Regions from separate parts of the Homo sapiens genome. Here region 2 is linked to region 1. A link means that fine-mapping ties the variant in region 1 to the expression of a gene that starts in the linked region. Tissue or cell type: whole blood. Region 1 holds a variant in brackets; the other region holds the start of a gene. All regions are shown on one strand. Distances are from middle to middle.

Region 1 (8,000 bases):
ACTCTAAAAAATCCCTTTTCCTCTAAAGGATGTTCCTTAGTGCTTCAGATATATTTCTTATCATATGCTGAATTAGTTACATTTGACAACTTTTATTCAGGTGGAACATTAAATAAAATTCTACATTTCAGTGCTTGAACCTATAGATATCCCTGTGTTCATTCTGCTGGTAATTTGAATTCTCTCTACCCATGAGGATATAGAACATGACCTTGGGAAATTTGTTAGAGTTTTATATTTGGAATGTACATAGTTTTTAAACTTCTCTTACAATTATTCTAAAGAGGAACATAAGTGGCTCTATATGAGAAAAATTAAGCAAATAAGCAATATTTATACCAGATATACTCTGCATCTTTCACACTATGTGATTAAACGTAACACCGGCACAATACATTTGTAGAAAAGAAATTATTTCACTTGCAATAAAGTAAAAAATATTTTCTCTAAATCCTTTTAAAATGTCTGAACTGAACATATCGTCTGTTTTAATACGATTTTCTTTTTGAGTACTTGAATTTTTCTCTGTACAGTGTTTCTACATTGAGACACATTTGATATAGTTAGGTCGATCACTGTTGCAGTTTGATCACTCTGTGTCTACATTTTTGTTATTGCTTATATTTTTTCCTGATATTAAGCAAAACATAAAGAAAATGTACTTAGAAAAACATCTTCCAAACACATTATTAGTGTTCTAGATATTTTTCTCTTCCTAACTATGGAGGACAAATGCTGTAAAGAAAAAGCCTTTTATTTAGGAAACACATGAATTTGTGGGACACTTTTAACATCTTTGGTCACCAGAATGAGTATAAACCAGAATCTTATTTTGAGAAAAATATTCCTTTTCTAGGTATATGGATTTCTTCCCAGTCCCATCTAATGTCACTACCGACTTTTTGTTTGAGAAGAGTGCCAATTACTTCCACTCAGAGGAAGCCCCTAAAAGAGCTGCTTCTCTGGTTCCCAAAGCCAAGATTATCACCATTCTCATTGACCCTTCAGACCGAGCATACTCCTGGTACCAGGTAAGGAAAATGCAAATAAAATCCAACAGGGAGAAGTGGAGTATGGACAATGGAGCATTGTTTTTAGCAATACCCACTAGCTCAGGTTTTCACAAAAGAGATTTGCTAGTTGTTTGATATCTACAGAAAAATGGACAAGTTTTTCTTGATTTCTATTGAGAAATTTCCTCCACTAAGTTTTTGTTCTTATTTTATTAACTTAATCAATTAATTTAATAAAATGTATTAATGCAATAAAAGAAACTAAATTAAAATATAACAAAATATTATGTACTTTTTTATATCTATGCCTCTATATATCTGCATTTTAAGGTAATAATTTAAAATCATTATTTTTTCATCTAATACTTGTGTACTCTATAAAGAGTCAGATTGCAACAAGTTCAGACATTGAGGTTTATACAGTCTCCATTGCAACTCTACCATTGTATTTCGAAAGCAGCCATAGACAATATGTAAATGCATAAGCATTCCTGTGTTCCAATAAAACTTTACTGAATAGGCAGTAGGCCATAGATTGCTGACCCTGGCTCTAAAACAGCTTAAATAGCTACTTGTACTAAAGAAACAGCTTAGTGGCAAAACTAATATATATAAGAATCTTTAGGCTGGGCGTGGTGGCTCATGCCTGTAATCCAAGCATTTTGGAAGGTGGGAAGATTGTTTGAGCCCAGTTCAGGTGGGAAGACTGTTTGAGCCCAGGAGTTCAAGACCAGCCTGGGCAACATAGGGAGACTCTGTCTCTACAAATAAAGAAAATTAGCCAGGCATGGTGGCACACATATGTGGTCCCAGCTACTTGGAAGGCTAAAGTGGGAGGATTGCCTGAGCCTGGGAGGTTGGGGCTGCAGTGAGCTGTGATTGCAGCATGTACTGTGCAGAGGGAGACTCTGTCAAAAGAAGAGAGAGAGAGAGAGAGAGAGAGAAAAGAAAGAAAAGAAAGAAAGAAAGAAAGAAAGAAAGAAAGAAAGAAAGAAAGAAAGAAAGAAAGAAAGAAAGAAAGAAAAAGAAAGAAGAAAAAAAGAAAGAAAATTCTACATCCCTGAGAGCCTAACATGTCTAAATGTTTCTTGTATACTCATTGCCATTGTTTTCTGATGTTGGTTAGAACCTTGCACAAAAACGATCACTTTGAAATAATTTAACAAACTCTAGTAATAATATATATGTCAAATACACTTTTAATAAATCATTGCAAATAGGAAACAATCTTTTAAAACTTGTTTCGGTGATAATTTAACCACCAGTTGGAAGGGTTTAATATGAAGCAGTCAAAATTAACATAAGAACATAGTAAAATTAATAGAGTCAATGTCTTTAGTCTCTAGGACCCTTAGTTCTCATTTCTCAGTTTTGTAACTTAAAAAATGCTTTCCTACTGTTCATGTGTTTATCCGTTCATCAAGTAATTTTAATGACTACCATGTGCAAAGTTTTGTTCTAAGTGTGATTTGAAAAATAAATTTGAAGCTATACTTGAAATTGCTTTCAGCCTAATTGGAGAAATATGTATAAACAAGCATATAAATTAGAAAGTAATAAGCGACTGACATACAGACTCCTTCGGAATGACAAAGCCCACCTGACAAAGACCACCTGGGAAAGGCTGTCGCAGAGAAGCCCAAATACCAGAACCATGGGGCACTTTCTTAAATAAGGGAAAGATACGTAAGGGGATACATTTAGGCAAAATTAAAATGAAGAAGTGTTTTCATAGGTGCAAAGCAGAGCTGTGTAAAGGAGTTATCATCAGGTCAGTGCTGAAAAGCAGACTGAGGGTCCTATTTTCTTGGAAACAAAAATGTTAAGACAAACGTGGAATGTTCTATGTACAAAAACCTCTAATCTGAAGTCTGCAAATAGGCTGGATATATGACTGCTTCCCTGTGTTAAAGTGACCCACATAGCTTAGATCCTCCCTACAAGAGTGGGATGTTCCATTCTTATTGATTTGATTTAAAACAGCTAAGTTCTTGACAATCATAATATTAGAGAATAAAGTTGCTCATTACTGAGTCCTTTTGCTACTTAACAAAAGCAGTTTTTGAAGTTCACAAGAGGAAGAACAGATTGTTGGAAAAGGTTTTGTGGCAGGAACA[T/C]AGTAGGGAAAGGTCATAAAAGCAGATGAAATCTTAGGGATTTTGATAATAATCTGAAAAATAGCGAGTGGAGACATCCTGGAAAGCTAAGATCCATAAAAATCCACCATTCTATACTAATCATTCACGCCAAACCTGAAGCCATCTTTTAAATCAAAACATACAGCAAATTGCAAATTGCCTGATTTGATTTTGCAACTTCTACCTTTTCCACCAAGTATCTGGAGAAAAGAGAAATAAGCCTTAATTGACTCCAAGAAAAAGAAGAAAATTGGAGCTTGGCAACCACTTAGTCCCTGAAAAATAGAGAATTTACAGAAAAAGAAGGCTTTAAGGCTGCAAGCTAACAAAATGTCCTAAATATTACAAATAAATCACAGTGGCAAAATGCAGGCCTTAACAAAGTCTAGTAGAGTTTGTAGTCCAGTGATTTGAATCTCAATTGCAGAAAATTTGCTATTCAACTAGATGAGGTAAACATCCACAAACTCACCACTAAGCCTGAATATTTATTGGCCAATTTAAAGAAAAGGTGATTTCCTCAAACCCATGGGCCTAAGCCTGAGCAATCCTGTTGGATTGCTGCTTTCTGCATTTTCTGCACAATAAATGATTCTGATTCACCGCAAAGGTTACCATTAGATAAAATAATCTTGGCTTTTAGATATCAGGGAATGTATGATAAAAGCTGTGGATTTCAGATAATGTACATGTCAGACTTTCTAGTACTTTCTTCATTTAAAAGAGCTGATAGGCCTTTTCTAATCTAAAACTGCATTACTAGATGGAGCAAAACTATTTGGCAGAGGTAGTAGGGTGCTTCTCTATTATAGATATTCACTGGACACTATAAATGGTTTGCTTATGAGCTGGAAAGAGGGCATTAACACAGCTTTCAAAAGTTTACTTTCACAATAAAATACATACACTAAGGAAACAACTCAGTAATGCTGGTGAAGGAATCCTATCGATAGGAATTCAACTTCTACCAGATAAATTCTCAAAAATTTACTCCCATAAGTATCATAACTTTAAATCCTGATGCTCCAAGCAAACATTTTCTTCCTTTACTAATTTCAAAATAGATAACTCTCCAGCAGTGAGGCACTTCTTTCTTTAGCTTTGAGACTTGTCACAAAGATTGATTTTTAATTATTTATGCCTACGGTTCAGATTAGTTTAATTATCCACCTTTTCATCATAGCATCAGCGATCACATGAAGACCCTGCAGCTCTGAAGTTTAGCTTCTACGAAGTGATCTCAGCAGGGCCCCGTGCACCCTCGGAGCTCAGAGCCTTGCAGAAGAGATGTTTGGTCCCGGGGTGGTATGCCAGCCACATCGAGAGATGGCTTGTTTATTTCCCCCCATTTCAGGTATGGAGTAATAAGGATTTACATCATGTTAGAATCTCATTAAGTTGATGACTTTGCCTTAAGGTTAAGAAAATTTTCAATTGTTAAACTATTACTAGTTTTTCCTCTTTAGTTGTAAATAATGAGGCTATGGCAAAGAGAAATAGGCAGAAGTAGAAAAACTTTAATTTTCTAAGAGTATTTCAGAATAATTCTCCCTGCTCTATTTGCTGTGCGTACCTTTCCTGATTGTAAAAAGCTTTGAAAGCTTTAGATACGATTCTTATCCTGAGAATAAAGTTTGAAAGAGAACCTCTTAACCAAACAAGACAAATAATGTTTTGCTTAATTAAGTGCCATTATTTCCTTTTTGAACCACCTTGCTGAATTTTTGATAAGTCCTATGTTTTTCTCAGCCCCTTGAATTTCTTCTGCCTGGCATCAACCTAGATTGCAAAATCAGCCCCTCATGGGATCATGTAAGCAATCCAGACACATCAGACATGGTATATACCTGTGAGTCTAGAGCCATGCTTTCCAGTATGACAGCCACTACCACATATGGCTATTTTAATTTATATTAAAATCAAATAAAATGAAAAGTTCAGTTCCTTTAGCCACATTTTAAGTGTTCAATAGCTAAATGTTAGACCCAGCAGCTATAGAACATGTTCATCATCACAGAAAGTTCTATTGAACAGTGCTGGTCTAGGCTAAACAGAAATATCAGAGAAGAGGTATGGATAGACAAGACCTGCTTTGCAGGCTTTGTGGCCTTTAATCCTGGTCTCCTCTCATCTTGCTGGGTCCACCCTCCTTGGCATAACAAGCAACTTCTTCTTAGTTTCTTGAGGAACTTTGTCCATGTTCAAGTTTCCTGAGAATCTAACCTTATTCTCCATATGGATTATCGAAATATTTCTTCAAACCTGACAGTGCTATTCCTGAAAGGAATCGTGAGGAATGACATGTTCTCTGTCAGATTACATCTGAGTTTATTATAACCTTTCTTCTTTTCTATTGTACTTTCCAGCTTGAATGACAGGATCACTGCTTTGTCTGTTTTGAAAGTTGGTTTCCATTTGTGATTTTCTAGTCACTTTTCTAAGCTCTCTTGGTCTTTCAACTGCCTTTTTTGTTTTCATAGTGTGACTTCTCAGACTGCAAACCTGAGTGTACTTAATTGGTGTGATTTATTTCTTATTCCAGGTCATTAATGAGGATGACCTGGATTCTATCTAACACCAATGCATGCAATTCTGCTCAGGACAGTGTCTCTCACTGAATGAGTTTAGAATGCAGAAATTTTTCATTATACAGTTTACATGTCTTTTTTCAATGTGCATTTTTTTATTTGATAATTTAGTTGCTAATTATTGATGGGCAACAACTAAGAACTGATCCTGCTACAGTGATGGATGAAGTACAGAAGTTTCTAGGAGTCTTGCCTCATTATAATTACTCAGAAGCTTTAACGTAAGTTTATATTCTAATTAGTTTATTGACATTTCAGCAGAGAATTGATTTCAAAGAAATTGCAGTTTGGTCATACAACTGTCAGGTTACTTGTTCCTTATATACTGGTTATTTTTCAATTTGACATTAACCACGGAAAAAAAAAACATTTCAACAGTGTGACACAGAAATGTCCTAAATCCTGTGTTAATTCCTAATTGTACAAAGATTTCCCTGAAAGGAAAGTAGAGAAATAAAACAGTGGTAAATCTTAAAACAAACCACAAACCTTAAAAGAAGTTATCTGAAATAAATTCGTAAAGCCTGAGCCTATTTAACAGGCAATATGGGGCTTCTTGGAAGTATGAACAGGTGAGTAACTAGGTAGTTTAGGAACTGACTCTTCTCTCATTTGTGTAATTTTCAGAAACAATGTCATACAGCAAGAAATAGTCCATAGGTGATTGAATAAGCAGAGAGAGATGTACTATTATCGCTCCTAAACAAACGTCCTTTTTTATTTTTTCATCTTTGTCTTTATCCACTATTTGACCCTGTCATCTCTGCTTCAGAGTCCTCAGCAGTTAAAGCACTGGTTTGATTTTTCTGTTTGTTTGTATGGTTTTTTGCTGGTTTCCTCCGATTTTCTTAGGTAACTGACTCTGTAAGGTCCATGACCAGGGACCAGTAAGGAACTAGGGCTGAAGAAGGCAGTCACTCTCGGAGGTGTGCCCATGCCTGAGACTGAGTGCTGTGTCCTAGGTGCCTCTCTTACCTCACCCTAGTGCTGACTCTGGGCTTCACTTAGCATTTTTGAAGAAGACCTCTATCTTACTGCGTCCATTTAGAATAGTTGGCAATCAGATTTAGGAGAATTATATTTGTTCCTACCACATGTGTAGAGCAACTGGAAGATACTGAGTTGGATTGGGTCATGGACCTGACTCACACCGTAAGTTGGTTTTTTTTTAATTACATGGACTGAGCCTTAAAAAAAAACTGAAAAAGACTATCATGGAATTTTTCCATTGTGTTTTTCAGTATAAAACTCAGTTCCACAGATCGAGTAGTTTTCCCTTTTTTTGTACTCTTTAATATCAATTTAGAAAGTGAGAGGCAGGTTTCCTTTACCTTTCAACAAACTTTGCAGGAAAAAAAGATTAGCAGGAAAACATCAAATACTGCTTATATCTCCTACAAATCAAATATAGAGACACGTAAGGGAGGCATTTTGCTGTAGAGGACAAAGGAGTAGGTGGAACTCTGCAGTTTTGAGCTTCCTTCCTAAGAGTCATTTATACTTTGCTGTTATTATTAACCTTCTGACCTCTGTGTTTTCTATACTATGAGTACTGTCAGAGTTTTGTATAGCTTAGTTCAAGTACTAACACAGACACTGGCCTTAGGTATTTAACATTCAACTTGACCTTAAAGAAAGCTGAGTGATTTCAGTTTGCACTTAAAAATTCAAGACCATTTTCTGTTCTGTATCTTTTTAAGCATCTCTTGGAAAAGAAAGCTTTTATTTTCTAAACAGTTTTCTATTTCAAGTTAGGTTATCTGTGGGTCTTTTTTATAGAGTATGTAGCAAAGCATTGTATTTCAGAAAAAAAGAAGTACAGTATTCTATAAAGACAGAGTTGCTTTTTCTTATGGGATGGTCCTTGACCTGCATGCTGTGTATTTGTCCCCTCTGCAGCCAGCTCAGCAGCAAGCTTTTTATTCATCTCCACTGCTGAGAAAAGGCAGTGTAAACTTAAGAGAATATCAAAGCAACATACTATATACAAAGAACCGTAGTCCGTTTGCACCTGAGCTGTATCTAGCTAAAATTACTGATTATATGATTCTCTAACCTGGTTGGGGGCTCAGTGGGTGAAATAGCAAGATAAGATATGTGTAGTCCCTGAAACCACAGTTTCTATTCCAGCAGTGCCACCCAGGCTCTCACCCTGCAGGTGGAGATACTGTGTTTCCATTCCATTTCTTTTTATATTTTCTTGTCAATCATCAATTGGCCTGACATACCTTGTAAAACCTGGCAGTGCACTAGTTGTAGAA
Region 2 (17,293 bases), 38 kb after region 1:
AGTGTGTACTGTTCTTCTCTATGTGTCTATGTGCTCTCATCATTTAACTTAAATTGGATTTATTCTTATATAGCATCTGAAGTCTTTTATTTTACGTTTTTGATTTTCTATTTTTTTGGAGATGCAGTCTCACTCTGTCACCCAGGCTGCAGTGCAGTGGCACAATCTCGGCTCACTGCAACCTCCACCTCCCAGGTTCAAGTGATTCTCGTGACTCAGCCTCCTGAGTAGCTGGGATTACAGGCACCTGCCACCACGCCTGGCTAATTTTTGTATTTTTTGGTAGAGACAGTGAAGACCTATTCCAGTTATAAATACTAACTAATAGGAATTAGTTTCAAAGTTTGCCATAGAATTTTTCTCTCTGAAATGATTTCCATTATAAAATTTGAAATATAGTCCTATTGCAGCGGGGAGACTTAATTTAAACTTTTTGGCAAAGAGAGAGGTAAGATGTGCCTGAGGCCAAAAGAGTTAGTCGACTTTGCCGTAATATACTAAGCTACATTCAAAAAAGTTTGCCAGTTTTGCTTAAATGTACTACCCTGCATTCATTTTTCCTTCTGTACATTATGTATAATTTCCCAGAATTCTTTTTCACTTTTATCATCCTGGCTTCCTCATTCAACAAACGTTTCATTGAGCATGTTCCAAAGTACTACTGCAGGTAAGATGAATATGACTACATTCTTGCCCTCCAGTAGACTGGGCAGAAATATTTTATTTCTCCAACAGAATCATTGTCTAGTTTGATATACAACACATTAACAGTGTATTAACTACTTCAGACAGTAGGAAATGAATTAAATCTCTAATTGATGAATTCAGTATGTTAAAAATCTGTATATCAAGTTCACATATTAAAAAGGTCTGGTGTATTCCAATGGTATGTTTAGAATATGCATCTGGAGAAAGTTGTTCCTTTCTGGTAGAACCTGAAGTTTTCAATATTCACTGTAGACATTCATCATATAAAACTAGAGTCCAGAGGATAGGCTTTTAGAGATACTAGATATGCTGACATTTTCATGTTATTATCCACATATACATTAATACATGCATGCACAATGAACAAATGTATTTAATTCAAAGGGCTTTAAACACATACCTAAATAATAAGGTAACAAATTCAAAGGGATTTAAACATATACCTAAATAATAGTGTAACAGAGCCATCTAGTGGCCACATAAAAACTGTTGTTTCATGTGATTTTGTTTCGTTCCATCAAGTTTTACATAAACGTAAGCTTATCTTCCCACTAATACAGATATTTATAATGCTTATGGATAATGGGCCAAAGTAATTTGGAGCTGGGGTACTAGAGTAAATGTTTGACATCCTAAGACATCTGTAATCTATATTGTGTGTAGAAAAAGGAGAATTTTAACAAGTGATCATTAAATTTTCAAATTATCTTAATTGATATGGGATGAAAGCATTAGATGTTTTTAAATTGTTAGTTTATGAATACTCCAAAACAAGATCTTCTCTTTTAATATGCCATATTAAATGTTAAAATAAATAACACTCTTATTTTGCATAAAGGCAAGTAAGCCCAAAAAAAAAAAAAAAGCCTCACTAGGAAATAGACTAAAGCAAGTACCACAAGCCATCTTCGAAAGAAAGAAAAAGTCAAGCTTTTGAGATGTTAAATATTTAATGAAACATAAGTGCAGAATCTCACTGACGTGCAAGCTTCTACAACCAAGTCAGGCGTTCACTCTTAAAGTGCTGGAGGCCAGTTTGAGATCATAGAACACATAGGCAATCCAATTTTTCAGGCTAAACCATAAAAGGCTCACAATGTTGCTTGCCAAACTTTTCAATAAATTTATATTATAAATGTTTCACAATGTCAAACACTTACTCTAAAATCCCAGCTCCAAAATTCTTGGATCACCATCACCTCAAAATTCATGGATCCAACTTAAACCACATTATCAATGTCCCTCACTGTTCTCAAGTATTAGCATCTCTTCTTGTCTAACTTAAATGTCATGGTAAATCAATATAACCAGTCCCTTGCATGCATTCCTTTTCCCTTCTATCACTTTGCTCACTCTCTTGGCAAACTGCAACTTGGTTAACTCCAACTCCCTGTCAGCTCCATACCAGCACCTATGCAGTTGAGCATGATGAAGAGAAAATACACAATCATGCTAGAGATTTGACTTTGAATTCATTACAAGAACTCAAGTGAGCTCCTAATGTGACCGGGGAAACCCACTACTTTTCCAAGTCTATTGATGCCATCTCCTAATTATATTTTTTCCTCTCTCCTCAAATTTCCAACACTCTCTCCCCGATCCTCACTCTCGGTTGATGGCCTGGTTTCCTATTACCCCGGAAAAAAACATTAGTAGATGAGAACATTCAAAGTTCACACCACCCACTCATCCACAAGCACCTGTACCCATGTACTCCTATTTCTATAGATGAACTGCCTAAACTATTATCTTAGGGTAACCCCTACTTTTGTGCACTAGATCCCATCTCATTTCCTAAGCAGTTCATCACATATCTGCTGCATCATCAGTTTTTCCATTTCTACTGGATCTTTCCCATCAGAATACAAACATACTTTAAGTTCTCCTATCCTTTAAAAATGACCCATTCTTGATCCCACATCCCTTTCCAGATATTGCTGCATTTTTCTTCCTCTTTACAGTGTAACTCTTCAAAATAGTTGTTCCGAATCCATGATTTCCAATACTTCTCCTGTTCTCTCTGAAATTACTCTCAACAAGGTCCCAAGTGACCCTCATATAGCTAACTCCAATGGTCATTTCTCAACTTCCATCCTACTTGTATCATAAACAATTGACCACTTTCTTTTGAAAAACTTTTTTGACTTTTAAGGTATCACACTCTGCTGGCTTTTCTCCTTAAATTACTTCTCAACATCCTTTGCAGGTTCCTACTGTTTTTCCTGGTAGATTAATATTGACAGGCTCCAAGGCTCAGTTTCTTATCCTATTTTCTTTTTTTCTTTCTTTTTTTTTTTTTAAGAGATGGGGTCTTGGTTTCATGCTCAGGCTGGAGTGCAGTGACATGAGCATAGCTCACTGCAGCCCCGAATTCGTGGGCTCAAGCGATCCTCCTGCCTCAGCCTCCCGAGTAGCTGGGACTACAGGTGTGTGCCACCACACCTGGCTAATTTTTTAAAAAAATTTTTTGTAGAGACGGAGTTTCACCATTTGCCCAAGCTGGTCTCAAATTCATAGGTTCCAAAGAGTCTTCTCTCTCAACCTCCTAAAGTGATGGGATGGGATTAGAGGTGTGAGCCACTGCACCTGGCTTCTTATCCTACTTTTTATCTATCCTTCCTCCCTTGGTACAATTATCTGATCTCATGGCTTTACATACCATCCATAGTTTGACAATTCACATATTTCTTTCTTCAGGCCAAACCTCTCCCCAGACCTCCATATTCATATATTGAACTCTCTACTCAACACTTCCACTTGGATGCCTAAAAAGCATCTCAAACATAACATACAAAACTGTGCTCCTAAATACTTCTCCCCGAAAACCTGCTCTTCCTGCAGTCTCCATCTCAGCAAATCACCAAAAACCTTAGTCATTTTTCTCATAGCCTAGAATCCCTTTATCTTATATACTTTACTATATCCAATCTGTCAGCAAATACTGTCAGCTCTACAATAAAAATATTTCCAGAATTGAATCATTTATTTCTTTCACTGCTACCACTAACCCAACACCAATAGCTCATCTTATTATTGCACTACCCTAACTGTTTTCCCTGCTCTACCATTATCTCCATCGCTACCCTAGAATTTTTCTAAACAGAGCTTTGAGAGAGAACATGTAAATCCTAAGTTAGATCATGTCATTCTACTCAAAACTCTCCAAAGGCTATCCAACTTATTCCAAAAAAACTAAAAACTGTATAATGACCTATAAGGCCATAGGTAGCCTATCATTACCTTTCTAACTTCACTTCCTACTTGCTTACCTCATTCCAGCCAAACTGGTCCAAATTTTATTCTTCGAACATGCCAAGCTGAGTTATCTATTCTTTCATAACAAATTATCCCAAAATGTAGTAGCTTACAACAGAATTTATTATCTCACACACTTTCTGTAGGTCAAGAATCCACGTGTGGCTTAGCTGGATCCTCTGCTACAGTGTCCCTCCCAGGCTGCCATCAACAGCTGGGGCTATAGTCATCTCAGGGCTCAACTGGGTAGGGATCCACTTCCAAGCTCATTCATATGGTTGTTGACAGAATTCAATTCCTCATGGACTACTGGTCTGATAGCCTCAGTTCCTTGTGGGATGTTGGCCAGAGGCAACTCTGTTCCTTGCCACATGGGCCTCTCCAACATAGCAGCTTGCTAGATCAAAGCAAGCAATACAGAAAGACACAAGAGGAAGTGGTAGCAAAACACAAGTCAGGTTTTAATACCTGGTCTCACATTTCACCACTTTGCCATTCAAGAGATTACATAAAGGAAGGAATAACATGAGGTGAGGTCACTGGGAACTTTGCCTACTGTATCAAGTATGGCCCCAATGAGAAAGCATTGGTTGCTTCGAATATTCCTCTTCCAAATGTCTGCATGTTTTGCTCCCTCATGTTCTTCAAATTGTTGACCTTGTGTCACTTTCTGAATGACATTTCCCCTGAACACCTTTTTAAAATTGTAATTCCTACCTTCCAAACACTTCTCATCTTCTGTGCTGTTTTTCTCCACAGCACTCATTGACGTTAACATACCATATAATTTACATATTGTGATTGGCTTCTACTTTAGTTTAGCTAAGCTAGTCCTACATTTCCCTTCCCTTCCCTGAATAATTCCACGTTCAGAAAGACCACAGGAGACATTTTGTATGAGACCTGGCAAATCAAAGTAAAGCAGCATACACTTTTTACACTTGGAAGGTCAGTGTGGGGCATCAGGCAATGTTGCAGATCATGCAAGTTATCACTTATCTACTAATTGTCTTGTAAGTGTGGGGCAGTAGCCAGATCTATAGCTTCTTCAGTCATCCCAGATCTTCTGTTTCAACTTCAACAATCCCTAAGTCTGTGACAAAGGGCATCAGCTTCTCTTGCAGATCACCTCCATCATCAAAGCTAAACCCTTGAAACCAGGAAGAGATTGGTCCTGATTCTAGTTCATTCTCATGGATTACAGCTCATTCTTGTAGATGCCAATTTTCCTTGGTCCCTCCACTGCACAATTGTGTAAGGTCAGATTCTACATATATGATTTTAATCATATGTATTTCCTAGTAGTTCTGATTCTGATAGAACTCTAATACTCTTATTTGCATCTGTTTTCTGCCACTAAAATGTAAGCTCCATGAAATTTTTTTAAATTCTATTTTGTTTACTCTTTCTAGCCACAGCATCTATGACAGGACCTGGGATATAGTAGAAACTCACTATTTAGTCATGAGAATTTTTTTTAATGTACAGTACAAAGAATAAGTATTAAGGATGGCAAAAATGAGATGAGACCAATATTTTCTAATGTTCTAAAAGAAAGATTACTATAAAAAATAATAAGAACTGAGATGCATCTTAAAGGATGGGTAGGAAGAATGGGTAGAATATTCTATTCTATGAAATAGCATGAACAAAAATAGGAATGAGCATGCTAAGTGTAACATACATTGTATGTTGGCCTGGGATGAGGAATTTTACCTGATAATCAGTAGGAAAGTCATTACACTTTCTATAACAAGTGCTTAACATGTAGAAAATATTTCCAGAAATTTAATCTTTCATTAATATACTTAGTTGATTGGAAGAGAGAATTAGAAATGTAGGGAGACAGCTCAGACATATTATCTTAGATTAGCAGTGTGATATGGTTTGGATTTGGATTCGTGTCCCTGCCCAGTGTCGAACTGTAATCCCCAGTGTTGGAGGAGAGGCCTGGTGGGAGGTGATTGGATCATTGATTTGCCCTTGGTGTTCTTGTGATAGTGAGTTTTCACGAGATCTGGTTATTTAAAAGTGTGTTGCACCTCCCTCTGCTCTCTCTTCCTCCTTCTCTGCCCATGTAGGATGTGCCTGCTTCCCCTTCCGCCATGACTGAATGTTTCCTGAGGCCTCCCCAGCCATGCTTCCTGTACAGACTGTGGAACCATGAGACAATTAAACTTTTCTTTACAGATTACCCAGTCTCAGGTAGTTCATTATAGCAATGTGAGATCAGACTAATACACAATGTAACAATAGAGAAAAGGTAACTATAAAAATAATGTAAACAGTTGTAACTTGGCCACTGTAGAAATCATTAGTGCTATAATAATATATTGAAATACTTCCGATTATCTTCCTTCTAAGCACACAGTAGGATTCCATTTCCCCAGGCTTTTGGAGTTAGGTGTGGCCATGGAACTTGCTTTAGTCCATAAATATGAGTCAAAGTAACATATGTCACATCAGAATGGAATCCTTTAAGAACATAATGACTATTTTCCCTTCTCCCTTTATGTTGCCTAGAACCATTACAAATGGTGAAGGCCTCATTAGCCTGGTCTCTAACATGAACATAAGCATGACAAGAAACAAATCTCTGTTGTTTTAAGCCACAGAGATTTTGGATCTTCTGTAACTGCAACACAACTTCATCCATCCTGACTGTGACACTTTTAGAATTTGTCAACAAAATTTTATACTCCCCTCAAGACGGGCTAATTTCCCTCCCCTTGAATGTGAGCTGGCATTAATAACTAACTTCTAACAAGTGATGGTGTGTAGGCCACAATAAAAAGTGTTGGAGCTTCCTCTCTTGAGTCACTCACTCTGAGGAAAGCCAGCTGCCACGAGAATCATGAGGACAGTCAAGCAGCCCTATGGAGAGATTCACATGCTGAGGAATTGAGGCTTCCTGCCAACAATGAGCATTAACTTGTCAGGTCTGTGAATGAGCCACCTTGAAAGAGAATCCTGCCGCACCAGCCCCAGTCAAGCCTTCAGATGGCTGCAATGCCAGTCAACATCCTGACTGCAACCTCACAAGATACACTGAGCCAGTTAAGCTGCTCTTAGATTCCTGACCAACAAAAACTATTTGAGATAGTAAGTGCTTATTTTTTTTTAAGCTACTAGGCTTTAGGCTAATTTGATATACAGCAATCGATAACTAATACATTGGTTGATACAAAAATATATCAAATACTGAAAATAAAGGATAGGGAAAAATAAGAACTAATTTCTTTGCTTTGAACTTTGAATGATTTGGAAAACATTGTAATGGCACTAACTGTAAGTTACTCAATTATATTCTCAAGTCTTGAGGCAAAGGCCATGTCTGCTCAATAAACATTTGCTGGAGTCTAGTAAATGTTTAACAACTGAACAAGATGTTCAGAACTGACAAGAATATTTTAATATAGATAGGAGGGAACGTCCATCTCCTCTCTTTTGGACACTATGCTTTTTTTTTAACACTAGATCATACTGCAATACACTATACTTTTATTACTGCAGCAAAACCAATTTTTACAGCAGAAGTATCACGCTGCTAGTATACACTGGAAGTTTAGATTTGCTAAGTGTTTTAAGATAGAAATAAGTCCACAGGTTATTTCCTCACTATATTTTCTCCTATTCATCTCAGCATTCATATGACAGATGTGCCATTCTATGTTAAATTTTTCTGATGACTACCAGTTTCAACACTAAACCACAAAAGGAAAAAAGATATAGTGCAGGGAAAAGCATTGTTGAAGAATAAATATTCTATAATGAACTGTTCACTCCATGTATCAAAAGCAGAACTGAAATGTTACCTAGCCATCATTTGATCAGTTCTAACAGGTTCACCTTGCATTCTATCTTTAAAATCCTTAGGCTGGGCGCAGTGGCTTGCACCTGCAATCCTAGCACTTTGGGAGGCCGAGGAAAGAGGATTACTTGAGCCCAGGAGCACAGGAGATCAGCCTGAGGGCAATATAGTGAGGGCTTGTCTTTCAAAAAAAAAAAACCTTAAAAAAAAAGTAGCCAAGTGGTGGCACACGCCTAGCAGGAGGCTCGCTTGAGCCTAGGAGGTGGAGGTTGCACTGAGCCAAGATCATGCCACTGCACTCCAGGCTAGGCAACAGAGCAAGAATGTTTCTAAATAAATAAATACATAAAATAAAATCCTTAAGCCAATCTTCATTTACCAACCAATTTTTAATTCTTTTATTTGTTACCACATTGTCTCTCCTGAATATCCAAAGGCTCAAAGCCTTGGTTTGAATGCAGCTAAATTCATTGGGTTTGATCTCAAGTCAAACTTAGAAATACTGTCATCTCAGCCACAAATTTCACACTAAAGTAGATAGAAACCACTACTAAATCACTACTTTGTCTTAAAATGAAAGTATAATAGACTGTAAGGTTATAATTGCTTTTTTAAGTTAAACTTTGTTTTACATTTACAGAAAATTTGCAAAAATGGAGTCCCCACACCCCCTTCATCCAATTTCCCCTACCATTAATATCTTACAATACCATGGTATATCTGTCACAATAAAGAAATCGGTATTGGCACTATTACCTAAATTCCACACTTTGTTCAGATTCGCTAGTTTTCCATTAATGTCCTTTTTCTGCTGGAGATCCCAGCCAGGATACCACATTACATTTAATCATTATGCATCATTTTCTCTGGCATAATAGTTTCTCAGACTTTTCTTGTTTTTGAGTAGTGATTAGGTAATTTGTAAAATGCTAACCAGCGATCTCAGCTCACCATAACTTCCGCCTCTCGGGCTCAAGAGATTCTCCCACCTCAACCTCCCGAGTAGCCGGGACTACAGGCGTTCACCACCACACCAGGCTAATTTTTGTATTTTTAGTAGAAACGGGGTTTCGCCATGTTAGCCAGGCTGGTCTCCAACTCCTAACCTCAAGTGATCCGCCCGCCTCGGCCTCCCAAAGTGCTGGGATCACAGACGTGAGCCACCGCGTTCGGCCCCTTTTTCTAATATTGTCTAAAATAAGTATCCTAAACAGGAAATACCAAAAAAATCCCCCTCGCTTTCGTGACCTACACCGGTAAGCGTCAGGATCTTTCGCTATGCGAGAACCTTTTGGCTCTCGTATGTGCGCATGCGTCTGGATCCGGAGCCAGGTGACCCGCTCAGACGTGGACCATGTGCGGGGGAGGGGGGAAAGGAGCCGCGAAGGGGGTGGTAGACGGAACAGGTGGAGCCGCGGCGGGGCTAGGCGGGGCGGGGAGTGAAACAGCATAGGCTCCGCCCCTCGCGGCGCTTCCCCCGGAATAGCGTCATCAGTTCTATAAGAGAGCGTGTGCCGAAGGCCTCGGCCTTTCACATTCGGGAAGCGTCGGGATTAGGTGAAAGTACGTAGTTGTCTTTCGTAAGTTAAAATGATAATTGGGCCGAAACTTACTGCCTTACCTAAAAGGCAGCGCAGTCAGGATATTGGTAGGTCGGGGGCGGCTTTGGAAACCCTTAAGTTTACAAGCATGCGCGGACTTGAGTGCTCATTAGGTCGCCGGGCGTCCACGTGCAGCCCTGGACCCTGAACCCCGGCGTGCGTGGGCCGTGGGCCCTCGGGGAAAGGTTCCGTGCACTCGGGGACTCCGGTGAAGCCTGTTCAGCCGTCTGTGTCATGTGGCCATCTTGAGTCTACTCTGTCGCTCTTGTGCCCTAGCACCCCGAGAACCGTCAGTTTGAGCCAGATGGTGAGTAATAACCTGTAGCAGTTTGGTTGCTGGTTAATTCTGGATTGTGAATCTCCATGTATCTTTGGGACCTGTCAGCCGTGGCAGTCTCCCTTCCTAGCCATGGAAGAGCATATCCTTGTTTATTGGCAAAGCTGTCACCATTTAATTGGTATCAGATTCTGACTTGCACAAGTAACATTCACTGTTAAAAACCTAGAGGGTGCCGGGTTATTGGGCAAAATTTCTAAACCGTTGTTCAATGTTTCTAGGAAGCTGAGCTGAACACATTACGATGGATGATGGAAACATAAGGTACATTTCTTTTTTGATATTTCTGAGTTAATCTGAAACGCCTTAGCGGCAGGACGTTGGAAAGCTAAAGTTGGCCCGTTTTGCTGGCTTTTGTAGTTTGAGTTAACAACCAACTGAATTAGCTGATAAGATCTCAAAACAGTGAGGTAAGTACACAGCTCGGAGTTTTATAATGCTTTTTTTCTCTTGCAGACTATCAAGAAATCCAAGTGGTAATGGGCGAAGTTTATTCAGCATCCGGCAATGGACTTATCGTAGTTGGGGAAACGGGTGTTCCGAATAATATCCTGGAAGTTATCAGGACACCTATTTTAAATATAGGCCTGAATTTTGTAAAGTAATATTTAAGGTGGTCCGTGATAATTAAATAAAATGCTTAATTCATGTGGCTACTCATTGTTCCTTGACTGAGTGATTAATAGACGGAAAGGTAGTTAATAGCATAATACCTCCTATTTAGTGTTACACGCTCATGTGGAAGTAGTGTGAGTACAGTTCTAAGGTAATTGCAGCCTTTGTGAAAAATGTAAAATATAAAAATTACCAGGCTACCCCCAAGGGAGACAGCAGACTCTTTTTAAACCATACAAAAATTTAAGGCAGTTATACAAGGTGGAAAATTATGTATTTATTTACACAAATATGCACAGAACACTTGTATCTTTCAAAAGTCACACTTAAGACATAGTAAAAGCATGTTGTATGAACCATGTATTCTTAAGGATTGAGCAAACTGCAGGCTGCTTGCTGCCTTTTAGGTTTGCTAGTCCCTGATCTACTTGAAACAGATGTTGCTTGCCCCAACACTAGTTTAATTATAAGGGCAGCCTGTGAGAAAGTTTCAATAGACATTTTTCTCACCTATATTGCACGTTTTTCTGAAGCCCTTGTGCAAGTGTGTGTGCCATGTGTAGTTCTATTTACATATAAACGCTACTTTAAAAGTTTATCAAAATCATGAGTTTTTACAAAAGTTTTTAATGCTCTTCTGCATTATATGCAGCATTGCAAATCTGCAAAGTAGTAAAACTATAAAGCACCTTTAGGTTTGCACCAGTTATTACAGAAATGGGGATTTGTGAAAAGGATGTAATTTGATGTAGAAGGGCAAAGTCCTTTAATGACTGGCATTCAAGAGGATTACTTAAAACAATTTGTAAGTTCATGCTAACCTCTTCCCTATATTTATACTACTGGGACCTGGGGAAGGATCCATGACATGGAAGTATCTTGAGTGTGCCTTTTAAATTTGAGCATTACTGCTAAGAATGTTCTGTAAAGGTGCATAGTTAAGCAGCTATCCCTTAACTCTTGGAGAAATAGCCATAGGGAAACCAATCATTTAGGTAGGAGAACCATGGGGAAAAAAATCAGCATTTTTTCTGGAGTTTGGAATCAGTTTCACCAACTGGTCTCACTTTGAGGCAAGCCTGTTTTCCCCCATTTGAAAACAAGGGCTACTACCATAAGATTTACTGGCCTTTTGCAAATTGTCAGTGATGTGCAAAGCTGCCTAATGCAGTGCCTGGCATATGTTATAACTGCTGTATGTATTAGAACTTTTCAATGTGTAGGCCAGGAAAGCATTTTGACTAGTATATTTTAAGATTGGATTGTATCAGGTTGGGCTTGGGAAAACCTGCAGGTATAAGTCAGTTACAGGGAAGTGTCAGTGGGTGGCACTCTTACATCATGGTCGGGGAACGTGGACTATGATGAGGTGCTTGTTAAAAGCAAATATAGTAGATATGTTAATGTGTTGGATAAAATAGGTTGTATGTCCAGCTGGCATTTAGTTACCAGAAATCCTTTCAAATTTTGCTAGTTTATACGCTGTAGGTAGAAAGTATTTTTATCTTATGGTTTCTGTAGCACTTGGTACTCAACAAGGATACTTGTTTCCAAATATCAGATCACTTTGAGAATATATTGTGACAGGCAGATGTCCTTGAGGCTTTACTACTCCTATTCAGGCCTAAAAGTTTATAGTGGAATTCTTTAACCACTGATTTCCTCACTTGACAAAGGCTACAGAGAATATGAAGATTTCTTGTCAAGTCTTTTGAAAAGACCTAAGCATAAATATGCCACTCATGAGTGTAGTAAAGGGTACCGCATTTATGTCAAATGTGGGTATTTAATATGATTTCAGACACCACTGATTCAATTAAAAGGGGTTCTCAGTTCAAATGTAAAAATGATCTTTTGTAAAATCAGCATAGAATGATTTTGAGAAATAGGTAGGGGATAGATGAGGCTTAGAATAAGTCACTCCAGTGAAATTAGGGTAGAAAATGTTCATTTAAGGATTATCACTTCCACTACACTGAGGCCTCTGAAAATGTTCACAAATTTCTCAAAAGCAGCAGGGGGTACACAATTTTTTACCACAACACAAAGCAAAAACAGATCTTGCCATTTGTTGTCATCTCTGCTGAGTGCTAATAGTGGGGGTTCAAAGTTTTCCATTTGTTTAAATGCTGCTTTGAAGTTTCCATGAAGAATTACAGTTTGGTGACACTTTTTATCCAAGGTACAAAGGCTGAGACTTTGGTATAAACACCAGGAGAATCCTTGACTCCACAGCCATACCCCCAGGAGGTCACCCCATACACCACCCAGCTCTCTCCGGGCCGTTCACACATGAGTGGTCCTCCGCTGTCTCCCTGGCAGCTGTCCACGCGTTTGTGTTCATGGAGGTTTCCAGCACAAAGCATTCTCCCTGTAAACCGACCCTTATAACGTTCTTCACAAAACCTTTTAGGAAGTAAGGGAATGGCTGCTTGTTGTAGTGTTCTTGAATAGGCTCGTCCTACTCAGACCAAACATCTGATTAGTGGCATTCCAGATAACCATCGCAACATTTAACAGTTACTGAGCATGTAATAGTTATGAAAATAAAATCCCTGTTGTGGCATTAGTGTAGTTTAAAATGAGCAATGACTAACTGGTATGTACTATTGTTAGCTGCCTTTTTTAATGTTGACACAATCTTAACCTTCACAAATTTCTCAGTACTGAATTGTCTGAGGAATAATGAATAACATTTATGGATTTGTAGAGTAAGGTGACCTAAGAAAGCATATTTGTGCAGGCTTTCGTATTTGAATTCTGTATATTAAAAAGCATAGAATGCATTAATGCTGGTTTCGCATTAGCACATCAATTCATATCTACTTCACTGAATTAAACTGAGTTCTCAGTTTATGCTAAAGTTCTCATTAGAACCAACAATACCTCCAGAATATAAGTCTCAATTACATGCATGCATTTCACACTAAGCAAAATTTCTCCAAATAAGTCTGAATCCATTTAAGATCTTATTGCCCATTGCACACCCAAATATATGGATAATACCAGACACAAAAAGGTGCCCTGCTTTTTTTGATTATGCCTTACCTGTGTCACCCCATCCTGTTATGTAACAGTTGGATGCTGTTTTCTGTGGCCTCTCTCTCCAGAGTGGTAAACAGGCTGGCAAAACATGGCTGCTGAATCTGGCACATTGCTCTTCTGGTCCTTGTAATCTAACCAGGGCTATGTCATAATCACTGCGGTCGGGTCGATACTCCCGATGAATCACAATCTGTTGAACTCCAATTTCTTCCTCAAACTCCTCTGGTACCAGAGTATGATAATCTCCAACCCTAACAGCATAGCTCCTAGTGCTGTTGCCATACCTGAGAGGCAGAGAGTACTAATGAGAGACTTGCTTCAGATACTGAAAATTATTGTCAAGAAGGAAGACTAATGAAGATACAAGCCTTTCTTCCAAATCATCAGCCCCTTTTGTAAATTCAACCTTTCTTTCCATTTATCTGACCCACCATTCCTGATCCTCTACTGCAAACCCATTGTCATAACCTCATCTTCATTTCATTATGTAATCTGTTCTCCAAGAAGGAGCAAATGTGGAGGATGAGTGGAAAATAAAGACTAATCATTAATCTGTCATTTCCCAAATGAAAAGCGATCAAAACAGGAATAGGTCAAAATTATTGTCCTGTGTTGTTGCCCTGTTATTTCCAAGAATTGTTAGTTTGTCATGAAGCTCTGTGAGGGCAGAAACTAACTTTGTGTCCCTCAAAGTACTTAGTACAATCGACTTCACTCTTGCAAGGTGGACTTAAACTACTTCCCTTTCCTCTAAAGTGAATGCAAACCCAAACTATACTTTCAGATAAACATATATTCCTTCTATCCTTTCCCCTCTTTTAAATCTTTATTCAGATGTCACCTCAATGAAGCCTACTTTGACACCCTCGTATTTAAAATTGCAACCCATCTTTCTTTTTCCTCCCATCATCAAACACTCCCAATATCATTCATCTCTACTTTTCCTCGTTTTTAAGCATCACTTTGTAACAAAACTATCTAATTTACAATTTATTGCATTTATCCTCCTCCCTGCTTGAGTCAAAGCTATTCCAGGTCAGAGATATCTTTGTTGTGTTCACTGATTAATCTAAAACACCTAAAATAGTGTTGTGCCATTAATTAGGAATGCAAAAAATTGATTAAGTTAGTGAATGCTTATTATTAATGTATACTTTCTATAGTCCATTAAAATAGAAGCAATATTTACCAGATGGATAGTTCTCAGCCCATTTTTCAGCCATCATACTAAAGTATGATGATTCTGATACCAAACCCACCTAAAGCAGGGTTTCTCAATCTCAGAACCTATTAACATTTTGGACCAGGTAATTATCTGTTGTGAGGGCTGTCCTGTGCATTATAGTGTGTTTAGAAGCATCCCTGGCCCCTATTCACTAGACGCCACTGGTACATGGTACACAAACCCTCCATCCCCAGTTGCGATTACCAAAAATGTCTCCAGACATAGTCACGTGTTCCCTGTTAGGCAAACTGCCCCCAGTTGAGAACCTCTGACCTAGAATGCATGACACAACCCATCTCCTAGTTACTTCCTCTTTTTCACAGAAGACTAGAGCTCCATGCTCATTGCATTCCACTACTTATAACATTCTTAAGACTTAATTTCCAATAACTTTTCCTTTGTAGTTCCCTGACTTACTCATCTGCAATGAGTGTATTCTCCACCTCATCTCAGCCACACACTTACAATGTAAAACCTAGACCTTGTATTCACCAGGTAACCACACACCTCTGAAATCTTGATTTCACACATACCGTTATTTCTGCCTTCTGTTTTTACAGCTCTAAAATCCTTCAAACCCATTGGACTTCTATCCTTTGGCCCTACTATTTTTTCATTTTAGTCTTTTATGACTTCCCTTATTATCTGGCTTGGGTTCTACCGTCTGCCCATTACAACAATCACTCGAAAAACTACCCTGCTTGTCTTTTACCTGCCAAAACTCCAGCCCTGGTTTCATCAGCTCTACCTATTTTGTGCCGGCATCTAACTGTTAAAGTGGGGAAGCACGCATGTAACAACTTTCACCTTAAATTTTTTTTAACCAAAACTTGGGTCTTTTATTGTTTACAAGACCTGTACTTGAATGTGAACTTAGAACTGAGTTGGTATTCAAAAGCTTGGCATTTTCTAGTGTCTATTTAAAATAAAACTTCCCACTTCTATAAAATTACTGGAGGTTATGAGATGCCTGAATATTCTAATCCTTAAGTAGGGCTCTGACCATCTCGTATATATGATTAACTGTCAGCGCTCAAAAACTAAACAGTGCAATAAAGATGATTTGGCTTATATAGCCACCTACTGTTGATCTTTAATATTAATAGTTAATCTGTGATTTCTTGAGACTCAATCTTAAATCATCACATATCTTTAAAGTTCAGAGGCTTTTTAATATATTGTGCCTAAAGTATATGCTCTTATAGCTTCCTTGAAAATTTAAGTAAAATTTAGGATTATTTCACATACTGAACTAAAAAGTAATAGGCATGGAGAGTAATCAAGTACTTATTTTCACTTCTACTTTCTGTGTGCTAGTAATATCGCTAGTATATTCATTAAATTTTATTAACAGTACATTCACATATTTAAAGTAAAACCCCAAATGATTTAACACTTTTCCCACAAGAATTATTGTAAATACATCCTTGAAAGTACTGCTGAAATGTTGCATTTATCTTTTTAATAGAATTTAAGAAATTATCTAGAGCTGTAGTGCCCGATATAGTAGCCACTAGCTAACTGTGGTTACTGCAGCACTTGGAATATGGTTAGTCTGAATTGAGATGTGCTGAAAGTACAAAATACACAGAATTTTGAATACTTAGTATGAAAAAAAAACTAAAATATTGTCCCTATAGATAATAAGAATATTAAATATCTCAACTTTTCTATTAGTTACATTTTGCAATGATAATATTTTAGATACACTATGTTAAATATATTATTTAAAGTACTTTGACCTGTTTGGGTTTTTATCTTTTTTTTTCTTTTTTTGAGACAAGATTTCACTCTGTTTTAAGTCTTATTGCAACAGTATTTTCCATTCTGTAAGAAACAGCTGTGACGCTTGGCTAAATTAATCTTTGCAGCTAAACTGGCTGTATAAATCTATTCCGCATTATCTATAAAAATTGAGTCTTCAACCAGTAAGCAAAGAAACAGGACATTACTAGCACAGGCAATTTATTTTTAAAATAATATCAATGTTAAAGCCCTGGGCAATCTTGCCTTAATGTGTCATTTCATGCCAAGACTATTGCAGTAGTCGCCTGAATGGACTTGCCGCTTCAAGTTTTAAATTTTTCAACCCATCCCTCATGCTGCCGCCAGAGTGATGTTTCTGCCTGATAATATAACTCCTTCTGAGTACCCTTCAAGGGATCCCCAATCTATGTGAAATTCAAATTCCTTAAATGATACACAAATCCATCTAAGAACTGGTCCTTGTTCCCCTCTCTGATACCAGCCTGGCCCCTGTGCTCCTGTCATTTACACCGTTTGAAGAGTTGTCTTACAAACCCACGTCATTATCCAAACTATGTGCAATGTTGTTTCTCTCATCCCCTCTATCCTAATATGGCAAAACCTGATTTTGTCCTGATCAAGTCAAAGATCTCCTAGGAGGCTCCTCCTAATCTTCTGCTCTCCTGAAAGCTAGCCAATCCTTTTGAACACTCTCAATGCATATGTAACAGTTTCTAGGACTTAATTAAAGGCTTTTCAAGGGCAAGGACCATGTCATGATCACTATTGTATCCTTAGCACCCAGCAAAGTGCTTGGCACAGAGAAAGCGCTTAATAAATGTATAATGAATGAGTTATTTTGAAAGACATTCATGTCCACATACATACACTCTCATCCCTAACTTACTGAAATTAAAAAGAGATCTTATCAATTACCATATTATAACAAA

The links. PIP is the estimated chance that this variant, and not a neighbour inherited with it, causes the effect.
Region 2: it holds the start of SNHG8, and the variant in region 1 is fine-mapped to the expression of SNHG8 in whole blood (INTERVAL, PIP 0.99).

What each region holds. Positions count from the first base shown.
Region 1 is chr4:118,236,190-118,244,189 of GRCh38, forward strand. It overlaps NDST3 (N-deacetylase and N-sulfotransferase 3), which reads left to right. Exons shown (of 14, transcript NM_004784.3): 10 at 857-1,031; 11 at 4,335-4,505; 12 at 5,851-5,960. Among named protein-coding and RNA genes, the nearest start is that of SNHG8, 39 kb to the right of the region's middle. The variant T/C (reference allele first, on the strand shown) is at 3,131.
Region 2 is chr4:118,269,456-118,286,748 of GRCh38, forward strand. It overlaps SNHG8 (small nucleolar RNA host gene 8), which reads left to right and starts at 9,307. Exons shown (of 3, transcript NR_034011.1): 1 at 9,307-9,337; 2 at 9,934-9,976; 3 at 10,169-10,368. It overlaps PRSS12 (serine protease 12), which reads right to left. Exons shown (of 13, transcript NM_003619.4): 12 at 13,376-13,656; 13 at 10,583-12,788. The coding sequence ends at 12,481. It overlaps SNORA24 (small nucleolar RNA, H/ACA box 24), which reads left to right and starts at 9,735; the gene lies at 9,735-9,865. RefSeq lists an enhancer at 8,835-9,014 and a silencer at 9,085-9,134.